Regions from separate parts of the Homo sapiens genome. Here region 2 is linked to region 1. The links come from fine-mapping of genetic effects on gene expression. Tissue or cell type: hippocampus. Region 1 holds a variant in brackets; the other region holds the start of a gene. All regions are shown on one strand. Distances are between the middles of the regions.

What was found. PIP is the estimated chance that this variant, and not a neighbour inherited with it, causes the effect.
Region 2: PTPRS starts here. The variant in region 1 is fine-mapped to the expression of PTPRS in hippocampus (GTEx, PIP 0.97).

Annotation. Positions count from the first base shown.
Region 1 is chr19:4,344,779-4,352,878 of GRCh38, reverse strand. It overlaps MPND (MPN domain containing), which reads right to left. Exons shown (of 13, transcript NM_001300862.2): 3 at 6,898-7,134. It also overlaps the pseudogene EIF1P6. Among named protein-coding and RNA genes, the nearest start is that of MPND, 5.3 kb to the right of the region's middle. RefSeq lists an enhancer at 2,070-2,571. The variant A/G (reference allele first, on the strand shown) is at 3,909.
Region 2 is chr19:5,336,884-5,344,983 of GRCh38, reverse strand. It overlaps PTPRS (protein tyrosine phosphatase receptor type S), which reads left to right and starts at 4,172. Exons shown (of 38, transcript NM_002850.4): 1 at 4,172-4,320. LOC105372252 (a long non-coding RNA gene) reads right to left here. Exons shown (of 5, transcript XR_936279.3): 3 at 8,029-8,100; 4 at 7,645-7,736; 5 at 6,918-7,527. RefSeq lists a silencer at 3,965-4,244 and an enhancer at 6,111-6,784.

The DNA.
Region 1 (8,100 bases):
AGGGACAGCGGTGGGACCCTCAGCTGGGTGCCCCCCCGCTCCCTGCTAAATCCCACCCCAGCCCTTTGGCCTAAGCCGTAAGTGCCATTGCCCCACATGACCACTAGAGGGAGGGAGGGAGCAGAGAAGGCCTTAAGCTAAGACCTCACATTTTTTTTTATTTATTTGTAATTTATTTTTTATTTATTTATTTTTGAGACGGAGTCTCTCTCTGTCGCCCAGTCTGGAGTGCAGTGGTGTGATTTCGGCTCACTGCAACTTCTGCCTCCTGGGTTCAAGTGACTCTCCTGCCTCAGCCTCCTGAGTAGCTGGGGTTACAGGCATGCACCACCACATCCAGCTAATTTTGTATTCTTAGTAGAGACGGGATTTCTCCATGTTGGTCAGGCTGGTCTCAAACTCCCGACCTCAGGTGATCCACCCACCTCGGCCTCCCAAAGTGCTGGGATTACAGGCGTAAGCCACCGCACCCGGCTCACCTCGCATTTTATAATACAAGCCCTGCGCAACCTTTGGTGAGCACCATTGCCATTTATGCCTAGGGTTCCATTATTGGAACGCTAAGCATATGGGAGCTATTTATATCCTACTGCTCAAAGTCATCGCCAAGGTCTGATTGCAAAAATTCAAAGAATTGCAACCTCAGGCATAAATGGGTTTAAACTCTCTGAACTCTATCTATTCTTTTATCTTTTTTTTTTTCTTTGAGACACGGTCTCACTCTGTCACCCAGGCTGGAGCGCAGTGGCACGATCTTGGCTCACTGCAACCTCTGCCTTCCGGGTTCAAGCCATTCTCTTGCCTCAGCCTCCTGAGTAGCTGGGAGTACAGTTGCCCACCACCATGCCTGGCTAATTTTTGTCTTTTTAGTATAGATGAGGTTTTGCCATGTTGGCCAGGCTGGTCTCAAACTCCTGACCTCAAGTGACCCACCTGCCTCAGCCTCCCAAAGTGTTGGCATTACAGGTGTGAGCCACCGTGCCCAGCCAACTCTATTCTTTTTTTTTTTTTTTTTTTGAGACAGAGTCTCACTCTGTCGCCGAGGCTGGAGTGCAGTGGCATGATCTCGGCTCACTACAACCTCCACCTCCCGGGTTCAAGTGATTTTCCTGCCTCAGCCTCCCGAGTAGCTGGGATTATAGGCATGTGCCACCACGCCCAGCTAATTTTTTGTATTTTTAGTAGAGATGGGGTTTCACCGTGTTAGCCAGGATGGTCTCGATCGTCTGACCTTGTGATTTGCCCATCTCGGCCACCCAAAGTGCTGGGATTAAAGGCGTGAGCCACCGTGCCCGGCCGCCAAGTCTATTCTTATCTGTAAAAGGGCACAATGACCTCCAACTCCACGGGGATGGCATCAGGGTGAAATGAAATCATACGCACAAAGCATTTAGCATACACCTAGATGCTCCGTTCATTGAGCGAGCCAGCACCATACATAGGTGGCTTTCACGTCTTTCAGTAACCTTTCCTCCCAGTCGGGCACAGTGGCCCACGCCTGCAATCCCAGCACTTTGGGAGGCTGAGGCGGTGGACCACTTGAGGTCAGGAGTTCGAGACCAGCCTGGCCAACATGGTGAAACCCCATCTCTACTAAAAATACAAAAATTAGCCAGGCATGGTGGCGAACACCTGCAATCCCAGCTACTCAGGAGGCTGAGGCAGGAGGATCACTTGAACCCGGGAGGCGGAGACTGCAGTGAACTGAGATCACACCATTGTACTACAGCCTGGGTGACGGAGCGAGACTCTGTCTACAAAAATACAAATTAAAAATAACCTCTCCTCCAGTTCTGTCCTAAACTGCCCTTGTGGAGGTGACCTCTCTGGGTCACATCTCACTTTCTGTCCTCGTCACCTTCTCGGCAGCATCTGACCCAGCACAGCCTCCTACCTACCAGGACACGGTCCTCACACAACCCCCGGATCCCACGCTCGCCTGGCTCCCTCTCACCTCCCCTCTCGCTGTTGCTGGCCCCAGGCTGGGTTTTCAGGCCTCCTCCCTCCACACCCCTCCCAGGTGGCCTCATCCCCTCTCAGGGCTCCAAATCCTGTCTACACCTGACACTGCCCACAGTCCTGTCTCCAGCCCAAGCCTCGCCCGGCTCCAGACTCAGGGCCCAGCTGCCTCTCTATGTCTCCATGTGGGGGACTCACAGGGTCACACTCAACACAGCCATGCTGGGCCCCACTGAACCCCCAGATCTGCCCTTCCCACATCCCCCAATTTTGGCAGCTCGATCCACCCACTTGCTCAGGACTCCAGCATCTGATCTATCAGCAAATCTGGCGGATACACTTCCAAAAATACCTGGAACCTGCCCACTTCTTCCCTGCTCCATGGTCGGCCTGGGCCACTCCATCATCCCTCACCTGGACCAGCTCACTCACCTCTGCCCTGGTCCCTGGATCCCACCCTAACCCCCGACAGTCTAGTCCCCACAGCAGCCACCAGAGAACGCCTGTGAGCACCTCAGTCAGATCCTGTCCTTCCTCTGCCTGCAACACTCCATGGCTCCCACCTTCCTCCCGGTCAAAGCCCAAGTTCTCCCCATAACCTACAGAGCCCTGCATGACCTGCCCTGTCCCCTTCCCATCCTCCCCACCTCCTTCTCTCTCCCTTACTCACTCGGCTCCAGCCACACAGGCTCCTCGCTGTTCCTCCAACACACCAGGCACGGTCGTGCCCCAGGGCCTTTGCAGAGGCTGTTTCTCAGAAGTCCTCATGGCACCCTCCCTCCCTCCCCACCTTCAGTTCTCCGTTCAAATGTCACCTTCTCAGTGAAGCCCCCCCAACCACCTTCTTCCCCCACAACTCCCACCCAAAGGCAGGGATTTTTGACTTTTTTTGCCCTCTGCTTTATATTCAGTGCCTAAAACAGGCCTTGCACACAGTTGGCCACTAACTGAATACATACTGAAAGAATGGTTTCCTGTGTCATCTTAGCTAGGCAAGAGTGCCTGGTAATTTAATGGAACACTGATCTAGGCATTACTGCGATGGCATTTGTTACATGTGATTCATATCTACAGTAAGGTGACTTTCAGAAAGGACATTGCTCTTGACCAGGCTCCATGGCTGGCTCACGCCTGCAATCCCAGCACTTTGGGAGGCAGAGGTGGGCGGATCACCTGAGGTCAGGAGTTCAAGACTAGCCTGGCCAACATGGTGAAACCCCATCTCTACTAAAAATACAAAAATTAACTGGGCATGGTAGTGGGCATCTGTAGTCCCAGCTACTCAGGAGGCTGAGGCAGGAGAATCGCCTGAACCCAAGAGGCGGAGGTTGCAGTGAGCCAAGATCACGCCATTGCGCTCCAGCCTGGGCAACAAGAGCGACACTCCATCTCAAAAAAAAAAAATAGACCCACTCACTGAGCCACTGAGGACTCGGCAGCCTCCCGTTGAGCACCCTCACTTCCTGACGCTCCATCCCTCCCACTCGCCTTCTCCCGCCACCACTGCTTTCCACAGGCAGTTCCCACCAAGGCAAAGGAATCGTGACTGGCTGCGGTGGCTCATGCCTGTAATCCCTGCACTTTGGGATACCGAAGCGAGTGGATCACTTGAGGTCAGGAGTTCGAGACCAGCCTGACCAACATGGTGAAACCGCATCTCTAATAAACATGCAAAAATACAAAAATCAGCTGAGCTTGGTGGCGCGCCCTTGTAGTCCCAGCTACTCTGGAGGCTGACGCAGAAGAATTGCGTGAACCCGGGAACGGGAGGTTGCAGTGAGCCAAGATCACAGCACTGCACTCCAGCCTGGACAACAGAGCGAGACTCCATCTCAAAAACAGAATTATATCTTTTGTCCACTATCCAGAACCTCCACTCTTTCAACCCCTCTGCTGATGCAAGTAACAGTGATGACCTGCTTCCTGCTGGCACTGAGGACTGTATCCAT[A/G]TAAGAATTCAACAGAGGCCGGGCATGGTGGCTCACGCCTATAATCCCAGCACTTTGGGAGGCTGAGGCAGGTAGATCACGAGGTCAGGAGTTCAAGACCAGCCTGGCCAAAATGGTGAAACCCCGTCTCCACTAAAAATAAAAAAATTAGCCAGGCCTGGTGGTGGGCGCCTATAATTCCAGCTACTTGGAGGCTGAGGTAGGAGAATGGCTTGAATCCGGGAGGCAGAGTTTGCAGTGAGCCAAGATTGCACCACTGCATTCCAGCCTGGGCGACACAGTGAGACTCCATCTCAAAAAAAAAAAAGAATTCAACAGAAAAATGGCAGGAAAACGCTTACTGCTGTCCTGCAAGAGATCAGTGATGATTACGATAAAAAGAAACTAGTGAAGGTGTTTAAGAAGAAATTTAGGCCGGGCGCGATGGCTCACGCCTATAATCTCAGCACTTTGGGAGGCCGATGGGGGTGGATCACGAGGTCAGGAGTTTGAGAACAGCCGGACCAACATGGTGAAACCCCATTTCTACTAAAAATACAAAAATTAGCCGGGTGTGGTGGTGTGTGCCTGTAATCCCAGCTACTCAAGAGGCTCAGGCAGGAGAATCGCTTGAACCTGGGAGGCAGAGGTTGCAGTGAGCCTAGATTGTGCCACTGAGCTCCAGCCTGGGCGACAGAGCGAGACTCCGTCTCAAAAAAAAAAAAAAAAAAAAAAAAGAAATTTGCAATTTGCCTGCCTGCAATGATACTGTAATTGAGCATCCAGAATATGGATAAGTCAGCTGGGCTTGGTGGCTCACGCCTGTAATCCCAGCATTTTGGGAGGCGGAGGCGGGCGGATCACCTGATGTCAGGAGTTCGAGACCAGCCTGGCCAACGTGGTGAAACCCCGTCTCTACTAAAAATATAAAAATTAGCCGGGTGTGGTGGTGGGCGCCTGTAATCCCAGCTACTCGCGAGACTGAGGCAGGAGAATCATTTGAACCCGGGAGGCAGAGGTTGCAATGAGCAGAGATCGTGGCATTGCATTCCAGCCTGGGAGACACAGCGAGAGTCTGTCTCAAAAAAAAAAAACAAAAAAAAACACAATATGGAGAAGTAATTCAGCTACAGAGTGACCAGTGCAAGAACATTTGCCAGTTCCTTGTAGACACTGGACTGACTAAGGAGGATCATGTGAAGGGTCAAGGGTTTTTTTGCCACTGCGTCGGGCAGGTTCATGGGTTTTAAGTGCTTGTGGCTCACTGAAGCTTAAGTGAGGATTTCCTTGCAATGAGTAGAATTTCCTTTCTGTCCTTTGTCACAAGTTTAAAAACCTCACAGCTTGTATAACGTAACCATTTGTGGTCTGCTTTTAACATGGACTAGTGTTAACTCCTTCATGCAATAAACTTCGTACATAAAAAAAAGTTTATGAAAACATATCTACAGGCAGCTGGGCGCGGTGGCTCACACTTGTAATCCCAGCACTTTGGGAGGCCGAGGTGGGTGGATCACGAGGTCAGGAGATCGAGATCATCCTGGCTAACACGGTGAAACCCCGTCTCTACTAAAAATACAAAAATTATCCGGGCGTGGTGGTGGGTGCCTGTAGTCCCAGCTACTCGGGAGGCTGAGGCAGGAGAATGGCATGAACCCGGGAGGCAGAGCTTGCAGTGAGCTGAGATCGTGCCACTGTACTCCAGCCTGGGCGACAGAGCAAGACTCCGTCTTGAAAAAAAAAAAAAACATATCTACGAAAAGAAGAAAGGACATTACTCTTGATACTACAGGTGGGCCTCATCCAATCAGTTGAAGGCGATAACAGCAAAAACAGAAAAAAAAAAAAGATTCTGCCACAAGACTACAGCATCTGCTCCTGCCTCAGTTTCCTGCCTGCCCTACAGATTCCACACATGGGCACTGGTACCATCTCCATTTTGGGGTTTTGTTGTTGTTGTTTTGAAATGGAGTCTCAATCTGTTGCCAGGCTGGAATGCAGTGGTGTGATCTCAGCTCACTGCAACCTCCGCCTTGCAGGTTCAAGTGATTCTCCTGCCTCAGCCTCCCGAGTAGCTGGGACTACAGGCGTGCACCACCACGCCTGGCTAATTTTTGTCTTTTTAGTAGAGACGGGGTTTCACCATGTTGGCCAGGCTGGTCTGGATCTCTTGACCTCGTGAACCTGCCTGCTTCAGCCTCCCAAAATGCTGGGATTACAGGCATGAGCCACTGTGCCTGGCCTACCATCTCCATTTCACATAAGAAAAAAAAAACGGCCAGTGCAGTAGCTCACGCCCGCAATCCCAACACTTTGGGAAGTCCAGGTGGGAGGATTGCTGGAGGCCAGGAGTTTGAGACCAGCCTAGGCAACATGGTGAAACCTCATCTCTTCTAAAAATCCAAAAATTAGCCGGGTGTGGTGGCATGCGTCTGTAGTCCAGCTACTAGGGAGGCTGAGGTGGGAGGATCGCTTGAACCCAGGAGGTGAAGGCTGTAGTGAGCCAAGATGGGGGCACTGCACTCCAGCCTGGGCCACAGAGTGAGACCCTGTCTCAAAAAAAAAGAAAAAAACTAAGGCACACAAAGGGTCCTTGGTCAAGTTCACCCGGCTGGTGAACACTCAGGGAACATCTATTATCATAGCATTTGAAGTTCCCCCAGTGCCCCTCTGGTCCCTGCCATCATTTCCAGCCCCCTCAGCCACCCATGACACCAGCAGGTCTTTCTTCTTGTCTACATGACTTTGCGTATGCCATTCCATCCTTCTAGAAAGCTCTTCCCTTCAACTTGCTCTGACAAACTCCTGCTCATCCCTCAAAGCCCAAGCTCCCATGTCCCCTCTCTCCGCCCCAGCCCTGGAGGGATGGAGGAGGCATGTCACGTGGTAAGGGCTCCATCCGTGTTTGTATATATTACTAATACCTCCTCCGGAGAGAGCTGTGCCAGGCTGGGCACCCCTCATTCCACAGTGACCTGGGCGGCTTCCTGGAGGAGGCTGCAGCACGTACCTCATCAGCAGCCGTGGCAGGCGTGTGCAGCTGGTGCAGCCGGAGCCAGGTGGCCTTGTACTTGTCCAGTTTCTGGCCTTTGTACTTGACAGAGGCCCAGCCACAGCCCGACTTCTTGGCAGGGTTCACCAGCTTCTTGCAGTGGGTGGCCCAGGCGCTGGGTGAGTTGAAGGTCTGCCCGGTCTCCTGCCACATGATCCTTCCGTCTGGCTGCAGGTCGCCCAGGAACTTCTTCCCCTGCAGTGACAGTCAGCTGGCTGGGCCCAGGACCAACACCCACCATGCCCTCTCTCCCGGGGGGTCCTCCCCAGACCTACGCTCCCTCAGGCATGTCTTTACAGGGCTTCCAGGAACACCTCTCAGGCCGGCTGCAGGGCCTCCTCAGTGCCTGGGAGTCCACACCCACAAACCTGATCAGCCTGCACCAAGCTGCCTGGCAGATATCTGCACCCCGCCCACCATGACCAAGAAACCCCTAAGATCGGGGATAGGGTCTGTCTGTCTTGATCACTGCTGTGTCTCCAGGATGCAACACTCAGCAGTTGCTCCATTCAGAAACTCCCATTCAGAAGGGGAATAATGTGCTACCATTCACAAATCAAACAATAATGACAACAGTAATAGTAATAATACAGGGCTGGGTGCAGTGGTTCACGCCTGTAATCCCAGCACTTTGGGAGGCTGAGGCGGGCGGATCACCTGAGGTCAGGAGTTTGAGACCAGCCTGGCCAACATGGTGAAACCCCATCTCTACTAAAAATATAAAAATTAGCCAGGCGTGGTGGCGGGTGCCTGTAATCCCAGCTACTCAAGAGGCTAAGGCAGGAGAATTGCTTGAACCGGGAGGCAGAGGTTGCAGTGAGCCGAGATCATGCTACTGCATTCCAGCCTGGGCAACAGCGCGAGACTCTGTCTCAAAAAAAAAAAAAAAAAAAAAAAAAGGCCGGGCATGGTGGCTCACGCCTATAATCCCAGCACTTTGGGAGCTGAGGCAGGCGGACCACGAGGTCAGGAGTTCAAGACCAGCCTGGCCAATATAGTGAAACCCCGTCTCTACTAAAACTGCAAAAAAAAAAAATTAGCCAGGCGTGGTGGCGCATACCTGTAGTCCCAGCTACTCGGGAGGCTGAGGCAGAAAATCGCTTGAACCGGGAGGCAGAGGTTGCAGTGAGCCGAGATCGAGCAACTGCATTCCAGCCTGGG
Region 2 (8,100 bases), 990 kb before region 1:
CGCCCGCTAATTTTTTGTATTTTTAGTAGAGATGGGGTTTCACCATGTTAGCTAGGATGGTCTCGATCTCCTGACCTCCTGATCCGCCCGCCTCGGCCTCCCAAAGTGCTGGGATTATAGGCGTGAGCCACCACGCCCGGCAGGGACCACGATTATTATTATCCCCATTTACAGACAGGCAAACTGAGGCACAGCTAGAGTAGGGAGACACGCAGGAAACACACAAACCGGCCAAAATATAAAATCATTCCAAATCATGATAAATAATCTGATACTGAAGTAAAGATGATCATGTGGTCACCTCAGTGAGATGGTCTGGGAGGGTCTCCCAGAGACTCGAAGAGCAAGGAGGAACAATTGGCCTTGAGAAAAGCAGGAGGAACAGCATCCTGGTCAGAGGGAACAGACAGTGCAAAGGCTCTGTGGCAGGACCTTACCTGGTGTGTTGGAGGCACAGCAAGGAGGCCCGAGTGGCGGGAGCAGAGTGAGCGAGGGTGACAGAGGGCGGGGAAGGGGGTAGGTTATGCAGAGCTTGGTGAGCTGTGGGAAGAGCTTAAGCTTTTACTCTAAATAAGATATTTCCTATCTCCTCCCAGCACTGTTGACTCCAGGAATTTTTGCTCTGTTGCCCAGGCTGGAGTGCAGTGGCGTGCTTAGAGTTCACTGCAGCCTCAAACTCTCACATCCAAGCGATCCTCCTACCTCAACCTCCCAGGTAGCTGGGATCACAGATGTGTACCACCATGCCCAGCTAACTTCTAAAACTTTTTGTAAAGACGGGGTCTCCCTATGTTGCCCAGGCTAGTCCCAAATACCTGGGCTCAAGCCATCCTCCCGCCTCAGCCTCCTAAAGTGCTGGGCCAAAGTGCCTGGCCAACTCCAGGGATTTTAAAGACTGTTTTGTTTACTTCTGTTGTCCACAGCACTTCAAACAACCTGGGAGCGGGGCCGGATGCATGGCCTGAACAGATGGGTTTCCCAAGCACATGCTGGAATGTATTTTTTTTTTTTTTTGAGACAAAGTCTCACTCTGTTGCCAGGCTGGAGTGCAGTGGCGCTCAGCTCACTTACAACATCTGCCTCCCGGGTAGAAGCGATTCTCCTGCCTTCTGAGTAACTGGGACTACAGGCACGCGCCACCACGCCCAGCTAATTTCTGTATTTTTAGTAGAGATGGGGTTTCACCATGTTAGCCAGGCTGGTCTCAAACTCCTGAGCTCAGGCAATCCACCTGCCTTGGCTTCCCAAAGTGCTGGGATTACAGGCGTGAGCCACCGCACCTGGCCAACGTATTTTTTGTTTGAGAGGGAGTCTCACTCTGTTGCCCAGCTGGAGTGCAGTGGTGTGATCTCAGCTCACTGCAACCTCTGCCTCCCAGGTTCAAGCAATTCTCCTGCCTCAGCCTCATGAGTAGCTGGGACTACAGGCATGCACCATCACACCTGGCTAATTTTTGTATTTTTAGCAGAGACAGGGTTTTGCCATGTTGGCCAGGCTGGTCTCGAACTCCTGACCTCAGGTGATCCACCCGCCCTGGCCTCTCAAAGTGCTGGGATTACTGGCATGAGCCACCGCGCCCAGCTGCTACAATGTATTTTAATTCTGTTTTTGATGTATTTAATCTGTTTTCTTTGACTGCTCACAAAATCCCTCAGAGGTACTAGTGGTTGTCCCCCTTTTCTAGATGGGGACAGCTAGGCTTACAGTGTTGCGGCCACTTGTTTGAGGTCACCTCCCAAACAGGTCACTGGGCTGGGGTTCGTGCCATGATCAGCCCCTCCACGATCAGCCATCTCATTTTACTGTGTCTCCACCAATTCTCCAAGGCTTCAGCACCCACTGTGCGTGAGAAACCACGCTAAGCATTTGTGCACAGACCACCCCATTTGATCCTTCAAGATGGGATCGTGTTCCCATTGCTTGGATGAGAAAACTGAGGCCAGATTGTAAACGGTCAGATCAGGGTCACCCCACCAGGAAGAAAAACAAAGTAGGCTCTGCAAACGTGGCTGCTGCACTGGCCGCTGGGAAACTCCAAGCTTAAATTAGGTTCCTTGTTAAATTATTCATTATCTCCTCTCTTTTCTCCTGTTTATGACTTCCGCCTTATCGTTTTGTTCCCCGGGTTAATGCTTTTTGTTTATCTGCATCTGTGGCCTGGAATGAATGAATCAACAATTTTGGAGGAAAAAAAAAACCAATTCTAAAGTTGAGTTCCTCTGTTGGGCACCAGGCCTTCTCCAAATATGTGCCTTGAGGAAATAAATGCTTTCGACATGATCAAAACACAAGGACTGATGTGCAATCTTGCTTGGTGGCTGTGAGCCCTCCAACCCCCTTACCTTTGTCAATATCCCCCTTTTATTTACTTCCGCTCTGTTTTTTTTCCTTATTTTTGAGAGTCTCACTCTGTCGCCCAGGCTAGAGTGTGCAGTGGTGTGATATTGGTTCACTGCAACCTCCGCCTCCCGGGTTCAAGAGTTTCTCCTGCCTCAGCCTCCCAACTAGCTGAGACTACAGGCACCTGCCACCACGCTCGGCTAATTTTTGTATTTTTAGTAGAGATGGGGTTTCGCCATGTCGGCCAGCCTGGTCTCGAACTCCTGACAAGTGATCTGCCCACCTTGGCTTCCCAAAGTGCTGGGATTACAGGCATGAGTCACCGGGCCCGGCCTCTTTTCTCTTATTATTCCATCTTCAGGCACCAATGGCAGCCAGGCTGCCACATTATAGCAATTCATCATCACACCCTCCTTAGGAGCAGGGGCTACCTTGCCCCATTTTACAGATGAGAGCTGAGATCCAGAGGCAAATCCATTCTACAGATGGGGAAAGTGAGGCTCCGGGCCTCACACAGCAAATCAGTGTTTTAGCTGGGTTCCAACTGTGGCTCGTCCTGACTCCAGGGAAGCAGGGGATGGTAATTAGGTGAGACCTGTGTAAAGTGCTTACTCTATAAGAAGTGCTCCATCATCCATTCATTCATGTGTTCAACCTACAATAGGGATCTCTGGAGCCACACTGTAGTGTAACTAGAATAAAAACGGGATAATGGGACCAGGCGCGGTGGCTCACGCCTGTAATCCCAGCACTTTGGGAGGCCGAGGTGGACGGATCACTGAGGTCAGGAGTTCAAGACCAGCCTGGCCAACATGGTGAAACACTGTCTCTAACAAAAATACAAAAATTAGCCAGGCGTGGTGACAGCACGCCTGTAATTCCAGCTACTCCGGAGGCTGAGACAGGAGAATAGCTTGAATCCAGGAGGCGGAGGTTACAGTGAGCCGCGATCACGCCACTGCATTCCAGCCTGGGCGACAGAGTGAGACTCCGACTCAAAACCAAACAAACAACAACAACAACAACAAACCGGGATAATGGGATAGAGTGGAGTGGGGCGTGGCTGGTAGCTGTTGTCAGGGAGGGCTTCTCCCAGGCGCTGCTTATTTGAGCAGAAATTGGAAAGATGAGAAGGGGAAGTTCTTGGATGCTCAAGTTAGAGGAACTGTAAGAAGCTGGCTGAGGCGGGAGGATCACCCGAGCCCAACTACTCAGGAGGCTGAGGCGGGAGGATCACCTGAGCCCAGGAGTTTGAAGCTGCAGTGAGCTATGATCATACCACTGTACTGAGGCCCAGGTGGCAGACCCCATCTCTGAAAAAGCAAAGAAGGAGCAGCTGGTTTTTCTGGATCATTGACATGGTGGGGGGGAGGGGACAGGGTAGTGGGCGCTAATGTGAAACGGCGAGCTGCAGAGAGGAGGCGGGATTTTATTCCAAGGGTACTGGGGAGCCGTGGCACAGTTTAGGGCAGCGCACAGAAAGTGCCATGCCCTTTGCACCCAGGACGCTGGGGCTCCCGCACGGACAGTAGCCCCAGGGGCCCTTCCCGCCGCCGCCGCAGCCGCCACCACCACCACCACCCCAGCCGCCCACGTGTCCCGCGAAGCCCCGCGCCCCACGTGCTCCCGCGGCCCTTTAAACACCCCGGAGCCACGTGACCGCGCTGCGCCGTCCCATTGGCCGGGGGGCGTGGCGGCCGCGCGGCTGCGCAGTGACGCGCACGGGCCGGCCCTGCCCCCGACCCGGCGGCGGCGGCGGCGGCGCTGGCGGAAGGGATGACGTCACCGGCTGGGGGGGCGCGCGAGCGGGAGCTAGGGGAGCGCGAGCCGCAGTGAGTGTCCTCGCGCCGCCCGCCCGGCAGCCCGGCCGGCGCGCGCACGCCGCGAGCCGCTGGCGCTCGGGCTCCGCTCGGATCCCATGCAACAGCCACGATGTGAAGCGGGGCAGAGCCGGGGGAGCCCAGCCCAGCCAGCCTCCAGGTAAAGCCAAAAAAAAAAATAAAATCATGGATTAGAGGAAAAAAAAATGCAGGCGCTCCAAGGGGGGTCTCGGAGGCAGCCGAGTGGGCAGCGCGCCGGCTTTGTGCCGGGGAAGCCTGCACGGCCATTGTGCTCGGAGGATGCTCGGCTGCAGCCAGTTGCACGCCCAGCCGCTGCGCCCCGGTAGCTGCGCCCGGACAATGCCCCGAGGGACAGGGCCGGGGCCGCGCTGGGGGCGCTCGGCAGGGGGTGCTGGGGGGGCTTCGTCCGCGGCGTGGGAGGGGGCTGGGCTGGAAGCGCCCAGAGCGCGGCATTGGAAGCTGCCCAGCGCCGCCGGCTGCACCACCCCGGGCTGCGGGCGGGGCAGAGGCGCGGAGGGGGGCGCGCGTGTGTGCGGAGCCGGTGCCGGCCCCGGCGGCGCCCGGCCCGGGTCCCCGGGCGGGTCCTGGAGGCAGGGGGCGCTGTGCCGGGGGATGGGGGGCATGCGGGCGCCCCGGAGCGGAGAGGAGCCGGGACGGGTGGCTCCAGGCGGGGTGGCTCCAGGGCTGCTGCGCCCGCCGCCTTCCCTCTCCGGGTCTCCCTCCCCTGGAGACCCCCTAGTCTACGCCGTCTCCCCTGGAACACTCCGGGCCCTGTCGTTGCCTTATGGGAGGTCGCCCCTCCGGCACTCGGGCATTGCCCCACCCTTCTGCGGCCTCGGCGCCCCCTTCCAGCCTCCCCACCCAGGGGCGAGCCTCAGCCCCCAGCCCCAGGGGCTCTGGCAGGCAGACGCGCACGCCCAGCACCCCAGTCTCCCCTCCGCGCTGGGGGCCCCGTGGGGATCCCGAGAGTGGGGAAGCCGCCCCTGGAACCGCCAGCCCCGCGGGTTCCGCACGCCCCGGGAGCCCCCGGGGGCTGCGGGGGGAGGGGAGGTGACGTCATACCGGGGGCGGGGCCGTCGGCACTGGGTTAAAGGGGGCGCGGGGCGTGCCCTGAGGGGAGCCCCCCAGGTTAGAGTGCCCGCGCCGTGGGTGCGAGGGTTCGGCCAGGTTGCGGCCAAGTTCACCTCTCTTTATGGGAATCTCTCCTAAAATTAAGATCCTCCCCTTCGGACCTCCCCCTACAAATCCTGGACATTTCCCACCAATTCCCCCCCTTCCCAAATTGGGGAACTCCCCTTCGGCCGCTTTCTCTCCAGAATCCTCAAATCAGGGAACCTTTCCCACAAACTGGGAATCTTTTTTTCAGCCACACCCCCCGCCCCAAATCTGGGACCTCCTTCTTCGGTTGACCCTCTTTCCCCAGTCTCAAATCGTCTTCTCGTCTCCCTAAATATGCAGCTTCCAAGAACGCCCCTTCCTCTGCAACCCTTCCTCAAATCCAGCCACCTCCTGGGACCTCATTCCCCCAAATTAACAAACCTCCCAGAGCCTCATTGGGGGTGCCTTGCCTCCCCCTTCTGGGCTCAGCTGGGATTCCCCTGTCCCCCCCCGTCACAATCTAGGGGAGCCCCCTTCTGAGCATGGGGTCCTCCTGCCTCTGGCCGAGACCCTAAAAACACATCCCGGCAGCCGCGGCTAGTGAAGCGGGTGTCCGAGGTGTCGGAGTCCCGGCTGAGCAGCAGGGATGATACCTAGAAGCCGGAGGAGGCAGGAAGAGACCCCTAGGGTCCCAAGGACAGGGACCCACACGCTCCGGGCTCCCGTCCGCCACCACCCGGACTTTGGCTGCTGGGATTCTGGCCTCCTCTGGGTGGCCCCCTATCGCTGCTGTCCTTGGGGTGCAGAGGGTGACGGCGCCTCTTTGTCTGGGGCGCCCTTCTTCCCTCTTTCTGCCGCCTTTCGCCCGGGAGAAGGAAGCCATCCCGCTCCTCTGCTCCTGCGATACCAGCGGCAGCTGCTGGAGCGTTTATTAATGGCCCAGGGACTTGGTCGAATCTGCCATTTGCATAAGTCCCCTCCCCCTCCCAGGGTCCCTTCCTTTGTGCCCCCCTCCCCCTGCCAATCGCGCCTGCCTTCTGTCCCTCTGCTCTTCTTTCTTTGCCAGCTGATATTTTGGCGGTGGAAGGCAGGCAGCTGGGGCTGGGGGCGGCTGCTTCCCGCCCTCAAATCCCACAGCCCCCCAGCTTGGGCCTGACTGAGTCCCCACCTGGGCATCCCTCCCCTACCCCCCCGCTGCCCTCCACAAAGCCTTCCGTGGGGCATCTCTTTCTGGCTGGCAGGCTGGCGGAGTCTTCATTATTTCCCTCCGGGAAGCAGGGTCCTGCCCTGTTCCCCAGGCCCGGGGGACACCCTCATCATGACGGTGCACTTCTGCATGGGGGCTAGGCCTCCCAGCCCCCTGGGGGCCACCGCCCGCCATACTCCATCATCCTGAGAGTTGTTCTAATTGGGCTCAGGCAAACAAAACGTCGCAGGAGACCCAGGCTGCCTGGTGAGCTCACGCACTTTTCTATTTCTGCCACCCTGGCCGATGACATTGCCCCTAACCCCCCAGGGGGTGACAGAGACTGGTACTGTCAGTGGCCGTCCAGAGATGCCGTCCCAAGAGGCGGTGGACTGGCCCGCTCCCCACTCCCCGCGGGAGATGGGTGACAGGTCATTTTGGCGTGGCCCGGCTGAGGCGCTGGAGGGTGCTACTGGTTGGCAGGTCAGCTCCGGGGACGATTTCCCCCTCTCCAGGAAACCTTGAGAGCCTCTGAAGTCTGCGTGAGGTGGCGACAGAGAAGGGGACATTCAAACCCCAGGTTCCTGCCTGCTGCCAGCAGAGAAAAAAAAATCACTCCTTATACCCCGGTTGAGCGTTCAGTGCGCCTTTTTTCCCTGCCTCCCAGGGGATTTCAGGCATCGTCCAGTGTCCATGGACCCTGCTTGGAGACACAAGTCCATTTTCCCCCAATTTCCACCATGGAACAGGGGGAAGCTTCGTGGATGCCAGGGATTTCGTGGTAGCATCTGGGTGGGGAGACCTGGAGCCATCACTGTGCACCCATTTTTTTCTTCTTTGGGTCGCATAGAGCCTGGGGCTCTGCCTGGGTTTCCCCAGACCTGGTACCAGTCTGGAGGCAAATCTATCTCTGCTCATCAAACGTCTTTCTGGGAGGTGACTTGGTTTCCCCTTCTGCCTTCGGGGTTGGCGTTGAACAGCGGTTCACAGATGTCTGAGGGCAGCGCACACCTCCACTTGCCAAGATGGGGAGACCTGTGGCTTCGCTGATTATTCCAGCGGCTGCATGGCCCCAATACAATAGTTAGTGGGATGGCCGGAGAGGGACGGGCAGGGACGGTGTGACTTGGTGGTGCGACGTGGCATTTCTACCCGAGCGCCCCGTGGCCCCGCGTTCACCTGCTTTCTGTGACGGTGCAGCCGCCGTGTGCGTGGGGGAAGAAGCGGGGCGTGGAGAGAGTTCGGGATGGGGGCGAGCGGGAGGGAAAACCCTAAAAATAAAAAGGGATATTTATAAACCCAGCGGGTTTGGGGGATAATTGACAAAGCTTAATGTTTTTCGGCTGAGAGCAATTCCTTCCCCCTGCTACCCATTAAGCTCCATTTGCAGAGTCGGTCGGAGCCACGGGAAGATCTTGAGATGAGCTTTAGGTTTGGCGGGCGCAGTGCTGACCGCTGTAGCCCCCTTCTGGGAGGGTCTCGTACTTTCTGGAAGGAGACAGGGGTCCCAGAAAGGGGCACTCCCCAGCTCTCCTCTGCATCCAGGGTAGGCTCCTGGCTCACCTTCCAATGGGTGGGTGTCCTCTTAGAATTTGCAAGGAGGATGAGAACCCTTCTCGGGCAAAGCCTGTGCAG